Linked DNA regions of Homo sapiens: region 2 is linked to region 1. Evidence: fine-mapped expression QTL. Tissue or cell type: cerebellum. Region 1 holds a variant in brackets; the other region holds the start of a gene. All regions are shown on one strand. Distances are between the middles of the regions.

Region 1 (8,193 bases):
TGGTGCAAGCCTGTGTGGGTCTTTGCACAAGCCAGGCTTCCTCTGACCCTAACACCCACAGCAATCAGTCATCACACCTTCCCAATGCACTAAGAAGGTGTGACATTTGAAACTGGTTAAAGTCTCCCTGGAGCCTGCCCAGCAGCTCTTTGTGAATCAGACCCTGCTAGGAGGGAAGGTGATTTTGACACGTGTGGTCTACATGCACCGCCAACCGTCTCCTGCTGTGTGACCTCCAGCAGGTCACCTCTCCGCCCTGGGTCTCAAGGCCCCATCTGTCAAAGGGTGTGGCAGGGGTTGGGAGGGGCATCAGAGGAGCTGCTGAACCTGGGAAATTTCCTCCCAGTGCACATGACAAGAGCCAGTGTTCTTCAGAATCTGGAAGGCAACACATGTAAGTGCTCACCGCAGGTGGTACTAGCACACAGGTGGTACTCAGCAGACTGTGGTGTCTAGCAGGCAGGACACTGGCTGGGAGTGAGGGATGCTGAGCTTGCCTCTTTCGCTCTGCAATTTCCAGTGAGCCACATCCTCTCTATGGGCCTCAGTTTCCACATCTGCAAACAGCAAATGTGAAGATCCAGGCAGTCGGCCTTGTGGCCTAGCTGAGGCACCTTCTGTTGTCCTGGACTCCTGTGGGAAGGAGGGAGGGGAGCAGGTAGAAGGGGTACTGGGGATCTTACGGAAGTATCTGAAGCACTCATTTTTTCTGCCTGTGGCCAGACTCTCTTAAGCTCCAATCACTGTCATGTTCACTGGCAACTCAGCCTGATCAGAAATGACCCCGTAAGCCAAACTGCCTCCCAAAACTTGGGGTTCAGCAGATGCTGGGAAGAATACACTCACATTTAAATGTGGTAGGCAACTAGGGACAGCGGGAAGATCATGGGGCAGAGCCAGGACCTGAGCTGGAGGCGCAGATGTAACACTGGCCAAGTAGCTTCCACTCTGTGCATTTCAGTGACCCCACTGTGAAACAGCAATCCAGCCACCGCCCTGTGCCTTCCCTGAGCACAGGATCTAGCCATCAAAACTCTGCAGCCCAGGGCCCTGCCCAGGGCCTGACTGTTCCCCAGGAAGATACAAATGTTACTTTTGGCTTGAAAACACTATGGCTTGGGGATCTGATAAAACAAAGGGGCTGCTAGATGGTTCATCAGTTGAACAGACACTCACTGGGTGCTCTGTGCCCAGCAGATGTCCCAGTCTTGCCCCCCAGAATGCAGAGTCCTGCAGAGACCTCCAGTCCCATTGCCCCATCCCCAGGAAACGTACCGCCCAGTACCACATTGTCCATCTGCTGTCTGAGCTTATGTCCCAACATGGCAGGACCTATCAAGGGAAGTGGCTATACAGAGAGGGCAAGAGCAGGCTGCCTTCTAACAGGAGGCCACCTCCCAGCCATTTGGAAATTGCTACTTGCAAGGCAACAGAATCTCAGTGACAGATTCTCATTTTATCATTACCCACGTCACAAGAATGTATTGCGAGGAGGAGGGGCCGGGAAAGTCGGTGCCTTAATCACTTACAGACCACGGAGGCCCCAGTCCTGGCAGTGGAAGAAGATTTATTGTGGGGACGGGTGGAAAACAAAGAACAGTTGTGCAAACTTTACGGAACCACATTATGGGATATGCTTTTCCCATTTCCCACTGGCAAATGTGCTGGAGGCAGTTTCCGAAGGAGGACCCAGCTCCATTACCCAAACATGTGCAGACACTGTGCCCCAGCACGACACACTAGGCTGACCTGGCCTGGCCCACGGGTGCCCAGGCGTTGGCAAGACTGGGTGCATGGTCCGAGGCCGGTGGATCTGTGGAAGAAGGGCTCCAGATTTGAGTGGACTGCCCTTCCTGAGCCCCAGTGTCCTCATCTGCCAATTGCCATGTACCCACCACACTAGCAACACTAAATGTTACCTCTGCCCATATCACAGTCCTGTGTACAACTCTTCTGAGACTCTCTCCACTCCCTCGGGGCACAGTCCAATTTCCTTACACTAGACCTTGAGGCCCTTTGAGGCTCAATTCCGATGTTTCTGCCCTCAGCCCCCATGCAGGTAATTCACTTCAAGACCAAAAGGACACCTATGTTCCCCACAAGGTCAAGACTATCACATGTCAAAACCTTCACGTGTGCTGTTTCCTTTCCCTGCAATGGGTCTTCTCATGGTCTACACCTGGAAAGTGCCCACCCACCTGTCAGAGCCCAGCTCTCATGACATCCTGAGGAAATCCTTCTCCCTCCTCTGTGTCAGAGGCATTTGGTTAATTCATTTGCCACCAGACCATTCTTCCTTTGACACTGTACTCCTTGCTTCTAGCACTGAACTTGGCACAAGGGGGTGTCAAGCTGTGTTGAAAGGTTGGTGGCCAGGTGGGGGTGGACAATACAGATTAGCCCAAGGCTGTCTCCCAAGGGAAGGGCACAGTTAAGGAAGGACTCTAAAGAAGGGCCTCTTCTCCTCAGCATCTCGGTCTTGGTGTGTCCAAGGTGACCGAGACCTTAGGGGTTACCTGGCCCATCCCCCATTTAACAGACGAGAACAGGATGCTGAGGTCTGCAGCTGCAGCCATCCAAGTGAGCACACAAAGCCAGCTCTGGCAACCCCATCTGTTATCCAGCAGAGACAGAGTCTATAAATTCTCAGTTACGAAGTTTGCCATTTCCAGGATGGCCCTCTCAGAAAACATGGTCTGGACACCTTCTTAAAGTCACTGTTGATTTTATCTGACATTCTCACTCCAGTAAGACAATCATTTCAATTCCATTTACATTAAGTTCAAAAGCTTTTTCCTTTATTAGTTTAAATTCAATTCAAATAGTTGTGTTTTTTATCCTTAATTTTTTTTCATATTCCATAAAGCAATGTTGGGCTCACAAAACTTGGCCAGCCCTCCTGTTCCCTCAAATTTGGTGCTCCTGGGAATTCTCTTCCCTGTGAGAGCTTGGGACTAACGACTTCAAAAAATGGGGAGGTGGGGGAAGGAACAAGGGCTCCTGTTTTCAAGCATCTAATATGCGCCAGGCACGAGGTAAGTGCTACACATATATGATCTCATCTAGTTCTCACAACACTCTCCCCTCCACGCAGACAGGAAACCAAGGCTCAGAGATGCCACGTGACTTGTCTTGAGGTCTCACAGCTGGTTAAGGGCAGAGTAAGGGATTTGAACCTTAGTGGTTGTCCTGTGTGTTTAGCCATTGGTCCACCCTGGCTCAGAATTTAAGTAAGAAGGGAAAGGGGTGGGGGGTCAGGGATGGAGATAAGTAGAAATGGGGGATGGGGAATGGGGGTGAAACAGGGCAGGGTGGGGATGGAGGTGGAAGTGAGGTGGGGGTGGGCTGTGGAGCAGGGAAGGAGGGCATCCAGCAAAGCTGCAGGCTGAGGCCTCAAGACCAGGAACTACATTTGGGGAGCACATAGCCAACCTGTTCCATTCCTGATGGGGAATCTAACCGGGAGGAACACACCTGTGAAAGTGCCCTGTCTGTACTCAGAGGCCTGGCTGCAGGCAGGAGTACTGGAATGGGAGTCAGAGACTCAGCTTCAGCCCAGCAGCCCTGACTAGGGCAACAGTGCCCCTCTGCAGAGCACTCTGCAGGTACAGAGCACAGCCCCTCCACCCCCTACAGAAACTTCTGGGGTGAGCATCACAGCTCCCATTTTACAGATGCAAAAACAGACTTGGGAGTGAAGTGTCTTGTCCAAGGCTGCATGGCTAGTGAGCAGCAGAGCTGGGATGAGTCTCCAACTCCATCTATCTCCAGTCCCTCTTGTCCTTCCCCAGGCAAGTTATTTCCATCTGGGGACTCAGTCTCCCCTCTGCACAGTGGCTGGTGGGGGACGAGGCTCTGACCTAATTGCAAGGCCAGAGAACTGGAAGGACACTGGCTTCCAGGAAGCCTCTCCTTGTTAAGCCCAAGCCCCCTGGGTTTGCTTTTCCAAAACAGGGGAGGAAGAAAAGCATCCCAATGTAAGCCAAGATCTGTGGAGCTAAACCTCGGGCTCAAGAGAAGAAAGGACATTGGCATCTGTTGAGCCCCTACTAAACACTGTCTACTGCAGACTCTGACTGCTAGGCACTATCCCATTTCACAGTGCAGGAAACTGAGGCTCAGCACAGCCAAGCGACGCATCCAAGGTCACAGAGCCAGCCCATGGCAGAGCTGGGACTTCCAACAGCCTTTTCTGTTTCTTTGGGGACATTCGTGACTGAACAGCCACTATCCATTTTAGACTTTCCCTTTTCTCTTTCGCAAATGCAAACTGTCCAGAA[C/T]GGCCAGGACCATTCTGATATACTTACTGTGTGCCATTGTCTAGTTTCTCATCAAAGCCTCACAACAGTCCTATTACCCCAATTTCATAGGTAAGAAAACCGAGGCTTATAGAAGTCAAGCTATACTTGTACACAATCACAGGCTGAGGGGTGGCAAAGCTAGGTTTCAAATTCAGGCTTTCTTGCAGAAAAACTTCAAGCACCAGATTAGGGGGTAGACGTGACAGTCTTTAAAGTCCCACCAATGTTGTGACTTCATGGGAAACTACTCAGGAAGACAGGGTCCGGGCAACCTCACACAGCCTTGGAACAGAGAGAACAGATAATCACAGGGCAGAGCCTCTGTCCTAGGGAGGGGACTCAGCTCCTCCACAATGAAGGCCAGGCCAGGCACTGAAGGGCATGTGGTCCCCCAGACACTTGGCCATGTTAGGAACCACTGTTACACACAGCGCAACACATGCTGGGAGAACAGGAGGCACAGAGAAAGGGGGAGCTAAGGAGGGAGCACTGAACTGAGTTGTGAAGGATGTATAGGAGTTTGCCAGGCTAGGAAAGGCATTCTAGACAAAGGAATCAGCAAAAGCCAAGACCCAAAGGATTTAAAGGACCTGGAGAATGCAGACTCTCTAGGAATTCAGGAGGAGAGGAAGCTTCAGGGCAGGAAGAAATAAAGCAGGCATCCCTGGGTTGCTGTTAATGTACCGGATGACATGAGGCCATGGTGCCTGCTCTCTGGGCTTCAGCTTCCCCACCTAATAATGAGGGTAGACATGAGAAGTGACATGATCCCAGGAAGGATCATTAACGAGGACACTTCTGGATGCCAACTTGCAAGCTGACTTTGCCCAAAACAGGTCTCCTTCCCAGATCCATCCAATCCTAGATTGAGTTGAGGCAAGTTGAGGATAGACTTGGTGGCTTGAGTGGGTGGGACCACTTGGCCTCTCTGGCCTCATTTACAGCAGGATTCTCCAGGGCAGCTTTTTGATTTGACCAGAAACCCCAGCCTCCAGGAAGGGAGCTTGTTTCCAGGCGACTATTCTAATGAGAGTGAAATGTTTTACTTTTCAACCCATGAGGTGTTCTCTACTCCAAGACAGAACAAAGAACCCATCAAGTCAGCAGGCAACAGGCTCTCAAGGTGACTGGGTGCTGGCTTCTTGAGAAAAATAGTTACATGCAATATCCATTTACTTCCCCACTCGACTGAGGGCTCCTTGAGACCAGGCAGGATTTGATTCCCTTCTGTGACCCCAGGACCCAGCCAGGGGGCACACAGCAGGTGCTTAGTGACAGCTTGCTGAATGAGTTTCAGATCTGGATATTCTCTCAATGTTTGTAAACAGACTGATGATTCTGTGCCTGGGAGGTGGCTTGGGGTCATGGCTAGTACACAGTCTCTGGAGTCAGACTGAGACCTGGGTTTAAATCCGACCCCACCATGCATTTGGGACCTGAACTTGGGCCAGAACTGGACTGTCCTTTCCCCATCTATAAAATGGGGATCATAATTCCAGTCTCCATGAATATTTTGAGGGCTGAGATCATGCACGTGGAAGCACTACATAAACTGAAAATCGCCCAACAAGCGTCTCAATAATGATCTTGTCCCACTTGATCAACCTGGCCAAGCTTATAAAGCCAGGCTGCAAAACCTCAGCTCCTGGCTCCCCTCCCTGTCTCCATCATCCAGCAATAATATCACAAGATTCAAAAGCAGTGTTCTTCCCACAGTGCCAGAAGTCTCACATCACAACATCTTCATCTCTGCACCCCCAGCTCCTAGCACGAGGCCTGGCACACCAAAGCAAGGCAAGTGTTTCAGGGGAATAATTCTTTCCTAATTGGAGGGTCACTTTCCCACAGCCTAAACCTTCCCCAACTTTCGATTATCAGCCCCTTCAGGGAACTTTCCCTGCCCACTGATGCATACTTGTTGTGCAGTCCTGGGCCCCTGACCACCCTCTCTGGGTCTGTCTTCCCTGTTCTCTGTCTGTATGTGATGGGATGAACTGGCCGACCTGCCACTCATCCATTTCAGGATCCTGGGTAATTCCCTGGGATGAGCTTCAGATGTTGCAATGGGTGAGGGGTGTGTGCTGGCCTTAAAATGCTCAAGCCCACAGGGCTGGTCTCAAGATGTTGGGCAGGGGGCAGAAGGCAGCAGATGCACAGGGACTCCACCCACTGTGATTTGAAAAGCACAGAGGTGACTGTTCTTCTGAAGGAAGAGGTTGGGCAAAAGTAGATGAGTAGAAGGCGGTGTGTCCCATTAGAATGGGCCAGGCAGCTGAGGCAGGTCATACAGAGCAAGCCATTTTGCCTGCGAACTTCAGAAACATACAGTTTCTTCTTCTGTAAAATGGGCATGGTAATTCATGGCTGGCCATGGTAAGTTTCAGAATATATTAATTCTCTTCTCCCTCAGGATATCCCATGGGATATGAGCCCAGAACCCCAATCAAATCTCTCTCCAGTTAACACTGGTTGGGCAGGTCAGCAGATATGGTTGGTATCTACCTCCTGCCACTTGGCAGACTGTGTGATCTTGAGAAGTGATTTGGCCTCTCTGGGCCTCGGAGGTTTTTGTTTTTGAGACAGGGTCATGCTCTGTCACCCAGGCTGGAGTGCAGTGGTGTGATCATAGCTCACTATAGCCTCAAACTCCCTGGCCCAAGTGATCCTCCTGCCTCAGCCTCCCACGTAGCTGGGGCTACAGGCATGTACCACCATGCCCAGCTAGGAGGTCAAAACAACAGATAGGGAATGGCTTGCATTGAGCCAGGATAAAACCATCTCTGAATCTCAGTAAGGAGCAACTCCCTTTAGCTCCCCCGCCCCTCCCAGCACCCAGGATTTTGTTTCTCAGGGGCTGGCGGAGGGGGGTAAAGGTTTGGGGCAAGGCAAAAGGGAAAGCCAGAAGCCCCAGGATTATGGGGAATGACCGTGAGTTTGGCCCAGGCTAGGAGGGCAAGGCCCTCCCGGCAGGTCCAGCCAGGTGGCTTGTGTTCTGAGTTCCTTGGCTAGTTAAGGCCAATCCGTAATACTCAGCTTTCAACCAGATTGATTTCTCTGGCCCTAGATTCAGAGGCACCTGGGACAGACTGGCAAACAGTGGAGAGGGGCGTAAGGAATGGAGACCAGTGGCCAGTGCAGCTGCAGTGGCCAGAGGAAGCTGGGCAGGATGAAAACCCGGCCCGAGACTCCAGCAGCTCATGAGGACTGGGAGGACACGCATGGGCCTCCTATGCCACAGGTCCAGCTGCCCCAGCCTAGCTCCATGCCCCCTGAGCAGACACTGTCTGACTCAGAGAAGGTGATCTGCAAATGACTGTCAATGAACAAGATGCAAAGAATCAGGGATCCCTGGTAGATATCGAATGGCAAGGACAGAGTGCCTGCCCTGCCCAAAGCAACCACCCACATACTGCCCTTCCCACCCTACTGACAGCAGAGGCTGCTACAGTCTCAAGTCCAGGCTCTGCCACCCATTGACTGGCTCTTTTGAGCCACAGTTTCTTCATCTGTAAATCAGCTGTAAATAACCCTGCCCTAAGCCCCAGGGCTACTGTACACATCACCTGAGATCAATGCTGGAGTGTGATGGGGAAGCAAGCACCCTCCCTTACATCATCTCTTTTATCCCTAATCACAACAACCCTAAAAGGCAAGTACTATTATTACTCCATTTTACAATCGAGTATGCTGTAGTTCAGAAAGGGTAAGTCACCAGCACGAGGTCACACAGCTGCCAAGTGACTAAACCAGGCTGGGTCCCAGGTCTGTGGGACTCCAGACCTGGGCTTTTCACCTCTGCACATGCCTTCCGGACCGTGCTCACAGCTTTGGTAAAACTCTTCACCAAAGTAAGGGACTCTTCTCATGCCTATTGTTGTTTTATAAAACCCAA
Region 2 (8,174 bases), 740 kb before region 1:
AGCCCAAACCTACACACTATCTTGCCATTGGATTTCCTACTCTGTGGAAAACATGCAGCTTTGTTTTTGTTTTTTGTCCTTTTTTTCCTCCTTTTTGTGGGAATGGGGTCTCGCCATATTGCCCAGGCAGGTCTCGTACTCCTGGGTTCAAGCTATTCCCCTGTCTCTGTCGCCCTAAGGACTGGGATTACAGGCGTGAGCCACTGCGCCTGGCAACTTGCTGCTTTGTATAATCTCAGTAGAAGGGCCGGGCGCAGTGGCTCAAGCTGTAATCCCAGCACTTTGGGAGGCCGAGGCGGGCGGATCACAAGGTCAGGAGATCGAGACCATCCTGGCTAACACGGTGAAACCCCGTCTCTACTAAAAATACAAGAAGTTAGCCAGGCGTGGTGGTGGGCGCCTGTAGTCCCAGCTACTTGGGAGGCTGAGGCAGGAGAACAGCATGAACCTGGGAGGCAGAGCTTGCAGTGAGCCGAGATTGCACCACTGCACTCCAGCCTGGGTGACAGAGTGAGACCCCATCTCAAAAAAAAAATAAAAAAATAAAAAATAATCTCAGTAGAATATGAGGAAAAAAGGATAGCCAGAAGCCCTCCAAAACTGATTCATGAAATAAAACACATAATTGATTTTTTTTTCTTAAACACAGAGTATCAAAAGACACAGGACAGGGTGCCCAGATCGACTGTTCTGTGCTCCAAATAATAACAATGATAATTTCATTTTTTAAATTTATTGTTATTTATTTTTTATTTTTGTCTGAGATGGAGTCTTGCTCTGTTGCCTAGGCTGGAATGCAATGGCGCAATCTGGGCTCACTGCAACCTCTGCCTCCCATGTTTAAACGATTCTCCCGCCTCAGCCTCCCGAGTAGCTGGGATTACGGGCATCTGCCACCAAGCCCGGCTAATTTTGTATTTTTACTAGAGATGGAGTTTCATCATGTTGGCCAGGCTGGTTTTGAACTCCTGACCTCAGGTGATCCACCCACCTCAGCCTCCCGAAGTGCAGGGATTACAGGCATGAGCCACTGCGCCCAGCCGATTTTATTTATTTATTTTTTTTGAGACACAGTTTCCTTTTTGTCACCCAAGCTGGAGTGCAATGGCACAATCTCGGCTCACTGCAATCTCCACCTCCCAGGTTCAAGTTATTCTCTTGCTTTAGCCTCCCAAGTAGCTGGGATTACAGGCGCCTGCCACCCCGCTTGGCTAATTTTTGTATTTTTAGTAGAGAGAGAGTTTCATCATGTTGGTCAGGCTGGTCTCGAACTCCTGACCTCAAGTGATCCATCCACCTCGGCCTCCCACAGTGCCGGGATTACAGGAGTGAGCCACCACGCCTGGCCAATAACAATAATTTTAAAAGCAAAACCGCTCTGTAGGTTATTTGCCCACAAGCAGCACTTGGCTCCTGGCCTTAAAAATGCCAGGAGAAGACTGACAATCAGGCCACCGCTTTGTGCCCATGACAGAAACGGCAAAGCCTATTTTTTTTTTTTTTTTTTTTTTTGAGACGGAGTCTCACTCTGTCGCCCAGGCTGGAGTGCAGTGGCGGGATCTCGGCTCACTGCAAGCTCCGCCTCCCGGGTTCACGCCATTCTCCTGCCTCAGCCTCCCAAGTAGCTGGGACTACAGGCGCCCGCCACTACGCCCGGCTAATTTTTTGTATTTTTAGTAGAGACGGGGTTTCACCGTTTTAGCCGGGATGGTCTCGATCTCCTGACCTCGTGATCCGCCCGCCTCGGCCTCCCAAAGTGCTGGGATTACAGGCGTGAGCCACCGCGCCCGGCCCTATTTTTTTATTTTTATTTATTTTTTAAGAAAGAGAGTCTCACTCTGTCGCCAGGCTGGAGTGCAGTGGCGTCATCTCGGCTCACTGCAACTTCCGCCTCCTGCGTTCAAGGAATTCTCCTGCCTCAGCCTCCCGAGCAGCTGGGACTACAGGCGCACACCACCATGCCCAGCTAATTTTTGTGTTTTTAGTAGAAACGGGGTTTCTCCATGTTGGTCAGGCTGGTCTCAAACCCCGACTTCAGGTGATTCACTTGCCTTGGCCTCCCAAAATGTTGGGATTACGGTGTGAGCCACTGCACCCAGCCACTTTTATTTACTTATTTTTACTTTTTGCAACAAAGTCTCGCTTTGTCACCGGGGCTGGAGTGCAATGGCGCAATCTAAATTTACTGCAACCTCTGCCTCCTGGGTTCAAGCAAATCTGGCTCAGCCTCCCAAGTAGCTGGGATTACAGGGATGCGCCACCATGCCCAGGTAATTTTTTTGTGTATTTTTAGTAGAGATTGGGTTTCACTATGTTGGCCAGGCTGGTCTTGAACTCCTGACTTCAGGCGATCCACCCATCTCGGCCTCCCATAGTGCTGGGATTACAGGCATGAGCCACCGTGCCTGGCCTCATGTGTTACGTTTTAAATTAATTGGTTTAATAATAAGAGCTTAAATAAAATATTTTGTCAGAAAAGTGAAAAACATAATGCCTTTTATTTAGTTCATGTGACTTGGGTAATCTTTGGGAAATAAAGATGGGTTTAAAGATTATTGATAAAATACAAATGTCTTCAAAATGTAAACATGTGGTCAAAATTATGTTCAAATATTAGGTTTGCTAAATGCTTTAAGGTCATAAACTGCTTCCTTGGCTTTTGAAAATTGTTTAACTTGCCTGTTTTCTAGCTCGGTAAGGCCTGGGACATATGCAGTTGGCCACACCTCTAGATATGCTGGAAATAGTCAAACCTTATGAGAACATAACTTACCAGGTTCTATATTAAAGTTAAAATTGCTGAAATTCACACTTCAGCTGTAATAGGAAATATCCTCTCCATTGGGCAAAAGCCGAGGAAATGACTGTAACTTTCCTTCATCCTCGTCATTTACATAGGGCATACCCCAAGTAGAGGGTATTTAAACTCCCAAAAATTCTGTAACGGGGTCTTTGAGCCCCAGTGCTCGGGCCCACTCCCACATTGTGGCATTGTGGAGTGTACTTTCATTTTCAATAAATCCCTTCATTCCTTCCTTGTTTGTGCGTTTTGTCCAATTCTTTGTTCAAGACACCAAGAACATGAACACCCTCCACCGTTAACAAAAGCATATTGGCGGGGGCACGGTGGCTCACGCCTGTAATCCCAACATTTTGAGACGCCGAGGCGTGCGGATCACCAGGTCAGGAGATCTAGACCATCCTGGCCAACATGGTGAAACGCTGTCTCTACTAAAAATACAAAAATTAGCCGGGTGTGGTGGCGCGCGCCTGGAGTCCCAGCTGCTTGGGAGGCTGAGGCAGGAGAATCACTTGAACCCAGGAGGCGGAGGTTGCTGTGAGCTGAGATCGCGTCACTGCACTCCAGCCTGGGCAACAGAGCGAGACTCCGTCTAAAAAAAAAAAAAAAAAAAAAGCATATTGATTGGACTTGCAGTAAGAAAACTCAATTTTGACTCCCAGGTTGGCCACTCATCAGCTGGCCAAAAAACGTGTTGTCTATTCAACCTGTCAGTTCTTCAGTTTCCCTGTGAGAAAAATGGGGATGATACCTACAGCACAGGATTTTTTTTCTTCTTGTAGTAAGTGGATTAAATAAAAGAATAAATAAATGAAAGAAAAGCATTAGGCAAAGTACTTAAAAATAATTTTAACATCTGAATCCAATCCACTTATCAAGGACTTACTATGTAAAAAGCATTGTGATGTGTTTTACATACATTATTTAATCCTTACATTAAGTCTGTGAGATAAAGCATTCTCATTCTATTTTACTGATGAGGAAGTTGAGCTTCAGAGACATCAAGAATCTTGCTCCAGGTTCTCAAACACTAGATGGCTGAGCGGGCATTCTAATTCAGGATTCAAACTCCAAGGCTCATGCTCTTGAGAACTTTCCTTTTCCAAGGTATTGCTTTCTCTTAAATTAGCTAATGTGTACTAACTTGTGGAGTTTCTTTCCTGGAGAAAGTTAGAAGGGTCTCTCGGGGTTTCTTTCTTGGAGCAGGTTATAAGGGTCTTCTCGAGTACTTTTTAAGTAACAAGAAAGCTAAATAGATTTTTTGGTAGATACTTGCCAATATTTTGTATTCGTTTTATATTTGATTTATCCAGATACTCTAAGGAGTTGAAACAGAGAGGACCGTTAGAGAGGTGCTGTTGCCAGATTTTCAGGGGCAAAGTCTTTGAAATATATATTTTAATGTATGAAAGCTTTAAAAAATATATACATATATAGAAATAATGAATATGTGTGTGTGTGTGTGTGTGTGTGTGTGTGTGTGTGTGTGTACATGTATATATATATACAGTATTCCCCAAACCTACACAGCCGGTCCTCGGGGAATATCCTCTCAAGCCCTGAGGTGCAGGGCTGGGAAGGAGTGGGTGAGCGGCTGGGTCGTGGCAGGTTGGTCTGGGGAGGCTGGGGAGGCTGGGGAGGCGGGAGGAGAACGGTTGGCCCCGGCAGCGGCGTGTCGGAGGGCGGATGGGGCTAGGAGGCCGCCCGGGGGGTGGGGTCTGCGGCGGGCCGGCCCCCGCGTGCGCGTCGCCTCGCCGGGCATTTCAAAAGCTCGCCGGCAGGGCGCGGCGCTAGCTCCGTGTGCCTCGCAGGCGTGGTGGGCGCGTCCTGGCAGCCGCCCGCTTGGTTCTCGCGGGATCCGGGCTCCGGCTCGACGCCGGCTCTCTTTTTGACGCCCCGCCGCCGGGGTTGCCATGGTTCATTTCTTGCACCCGGGCCACACGCCCCGGAACATCGTCCCTCCTGACGCTCAGAAGGATGCCCTGGGCTGCTGCGTGGTACAGGTGAGCACCGGGGTGCGGGCGGCGACGCGGACCTCGGCGCCACGTCCAGCTCCGGCGAGCGCGGCGAGTCTCCTGGGACGCTGCCGAGGCACTTGCTGGGGAGTGTGGCCCGCGCGGGGCTGCGGTCTAGATGCCGAGCCCCTTCCAGGCGCAGGCGTCGCTGCGGAGGTGCGTTGTCGGGGGAGGCGGCCTGGGCGCCGCGGAGCGGGGGGTGCTTTTCTGCGCCCGGCGAAGCGCGTGGAACTTGCGCCCTGAGGCAGCGCGGCGAGAGCCCAGTCCCAGAGACCGGGGCGAGCCTCCTCAGGATTCCTCGCCCCAGTGCGGGCTGCTGTGAGCTTAGACGTAGGTGCAGGGCATGGCACTCGGCTTGGCCCGTAGTGGACGGTGTTTTTGCAGTCATGAACCCAAACGCCGCAAACCTTGACCGTTTCCCCACCCGTGTTGTGGACGCAGCGCCCCGCGGAGGCGGTGACCCTTTGGCCGTTACCACCTGAGGCCTTTGGGCCCGGGGCCGGGCGAGTAGCTTAGTCCGGCTGGGGGAACTGGAACCCGAAGTCTGAGATTCTTTCAGTTCCGCGCGTCCGCCCCCGTCCCCGTCCCGTCCCCAGCCTTTGCCGAATGCCTGTTACTCTTAGCTCTGGACAAAATGCAAACCCAAAGAATGTGTGTTTAGCGCCTGCTGTGTGTTAAGTGTCGCCTTTCTTTTCTTTCTTTCTTTTTTTTTTTTTTTTTGAGACGGAGTCTCGCTCTGTCACCAGGCTGGAGTGCAGTGGCGCGATCTGGGCCCACTGCAACCTCCGCCTCCGGGGTTCAAGCGATTCTTCTGCCTCAGCCTCCCGAGTAGGTGGGACTACAGGCGCGTGCCACCATGCCCGACTCATTTTTTGTATTTTTAGTAGAGACGGGGTTTCACCATGTTGGCCAGGATGGTTTCGAACTCCAGACCTCGTGATCTACCCGCCTCGGCCTCCCAGAGTGCTGGGATTACAGGCGTCAGCCACCGTGCCCGGCCAAGTGTCGCCTTTCTAAAGCAGTCTGGTAACCCCTAGTCTTTTGTAGGCTTTGCTAGGCTCCATTTTACCGATGTAGGGAAGTTGGGAGCTCTGAAATTTAGTTGACTTGCTCGTGAACTTGAATTTCACCTCAGGTGTTCAGACCTCTGGCCCCACTTTGGAAAAAACCCGCCAAGGGCCACCCTTGGGGAACTCGAGGGATTGAGTGGTGAAGGCTCGACCCAAAATTTATGGAGAGAAGGAAATGTTCTGATTAAGGTTGTGCTTTACATATTAACGCCTTGTTGGAAGACTTTGTGCCCTGCAGTGATCTAGCCTGTAATCTTTTGAACTCATTTAGAAAAGTTATATAATTTGTGGATTTGTAATTAATGGAAAACTTGGATTTTTTACGTGTGTGCTAGCATCGTCTCAAGCACATTTTTTCCTGCTTGGAATCGAAACAAGATTTCTTTACAAAAGTACTCACACCCATTTTCTCTGTCTAGTTCTGGGTATATCTCATTTTCTTTGTTAAGGATTTTATTTATTTTTAATTAATTATTTTAATTACACAAATATTGCATGAATACTTTTTTCCCTATGAAACATACATACAATTATTTCCATTTATGTCATTTTAATCTTCTCTTAGCAATGTTTTGTAGTTTTTAATATAAAAGTCTTTTCACATTTTGTTAAATTTGTTCCTGTTCTTGATACTATTGTAAATACTTTTTTTTTTTGAGACGGAGTCTCCCAAAGTGCTGGGATTACAGGCATGAGCCACCGTGCCCGGCCAGCAAATATTTTTTAAAACTTTATATTACCTTGTGTATATATAAGAATACATAAAATTGATTTTTGTATATTGATCTTGTATCCTACAGCCTGGCCAAAGTCACTTAGTTTTCTTTATTTTTTTGTAAATTTTTAAAGATTTTCTACACAGTCATATTATTTTCTTTTTATCCTTTTAATTTTTTATTTTTAATTAAGACGGTGGTTTCCCTATTGTCCAGGCTGGTCTTTGAACTCCGGCTCAAGCAATCCTCTTGCCTTGGCCTCCCATATCTTTTCAATTTTTTGCTTCATGAATTTTGAAGCTATTAGTAAGTTCGTATGCATTTAGGAATGTTAATTCTGCTTGATGAATTGGCCCTTTTATCATTAAGAAATGTCCATCTTGATCTCTAGCAATATTCTTGTCCAGAAGCCTCATTTTTTCTGACAGTGTAGTCACTCCAGTTTCCTTGTGTCTAGTGTTTAACAACTGTATGTTTTAAATTGTGTCTCTTGTAAACAGCAATCTTGCATTTGTATGTAGCCTAATGGTCTGTGCTTTTTTTTTTTTTTTTGAGACGGAGCCTTGCTCTGTCACTCAGGCTGGAGTACAGTGGTACAATCTTGACTCACTGCAACCTCCGCCTCCCGGGTTCAAGCGATTCTCTCGCCTCAGCCTCCTGAGTAGCTGGGACTACAAGTGTGTGCCACCATTTCCTGGCTAATTTTTGTATTTTTGTAGAGACAGGTATTTTTGTAGAGGCGGGGTTTCACCATGTTGCCCAGGCTGGTCCTGAACTCCTGGCCTCAAGCGACCTGCCCATCTTGACCACCCAAAGTGCTGGGATTACAGGCGTGAACCACTGCACCCAGCCTTTATTTTTGAATTTTTTTTTTTTTTTTTTTACAGAGGACAGGAAAGTAAACATTTTAATTTTTTTAATTAAAAATGTATTTTTTAAATTGATTTTTGCAGGGAGGAGAGAGTCTCACTCTGTTGCCCAGGTTTGAGTGCAGTCTGTGATCATAGCTCATCCTCCCTCCTCAGCCTCCCTAGTAGCTAGACTATAGGTGTGCACCACCATGCCTGGCTGTTTTTTATTTTTTGTAGAGGCTGAGTCTTGCTTTGTTGCCCAGGCTAGTCTCAGACTTCTGGCCTCAGCCTCCCAAAGTTCTGGGATTCCAGATGTGAGCCACTGTGCCCGGCCTTTCTGTGCTTTTTAATTAGAATAAATATAATTATCAGTATTGTTGGGGTTAAGTCTACTGTGTTGCTATATATGTTCCATTTGTCTTGTTTTTTCCTTTTCTTTTGAATTATTTAGAAAATACCATGTTCTCTTTTGACTTAGTAGTTCTCTCTTTCTCTCCCTTTCTCCTTCTTACTCTTTAATAGTCACTCAAAGGTAGCTGTTTTCAAAGTGTGGACCCCAGGACCTCCAGAATCCCATCTCTTCCATTAGCCTGCCTGTTAATGAAATTTGCAAAAATGTAAAACAGTGCTGCTGTTCTCAACTAAGCTAGTTTTTAGTTCTTTTGGAAATCATGGCTTTTTAAATTTTTATATATATATATATATATATATATATATATATA

Alleles and levels. Positions count from the first base shown, and alleles are read on the strand shown. Sizes are in standard deviations (SD) of each study's normalised expression.
For the expression in cerebellum of the gene that starts at base 4,590 in region 2, C is the low allele of the variant in region 1 and T is the other (large effect, 2.2 SD a copy in GTEx).

Evidence for each region. PIP is the estimated chance that this variant, and not a neighbour inherited with it, causes the effect.
Region 2: ZYG11A starts here. The variant in region 1 is fine-mapped to the expression of ZYG11A in cerebellum (GTEx, PIP above 0.99).

Annotation. Positions count from the first base shown.
Region 1 is chr1:53,582,247-53,590,439 of GRCh38, forward strand. All of the region lies in intron 4 of GLIS1 (GLIS family zinc finger 1), which reads right to left. Among named protein-coding and RNA genes, the nearest start is that of DMRTB1, 130 kb to the left of the region's middle. RefSeq lists a silencer at 2,996-3,196. The variant C/T (reference allele first, on the strand shown) is at 4,281.
Region 2 is chr1:52,838,171-52,846,344 of GRCh38, forward strand. It overlaps ZYG11A (zyg-11 family member A, cell cycle regulator), which reads left to right and starts at 4,590. Exons shown (of 14, transcript NM_001004339.3): 1 at 4,590-4,803. The coding sequence starts at 4,714. RefSeq lists a silencer at 4,340-4,669 and an enhancer at 5,171-5,764.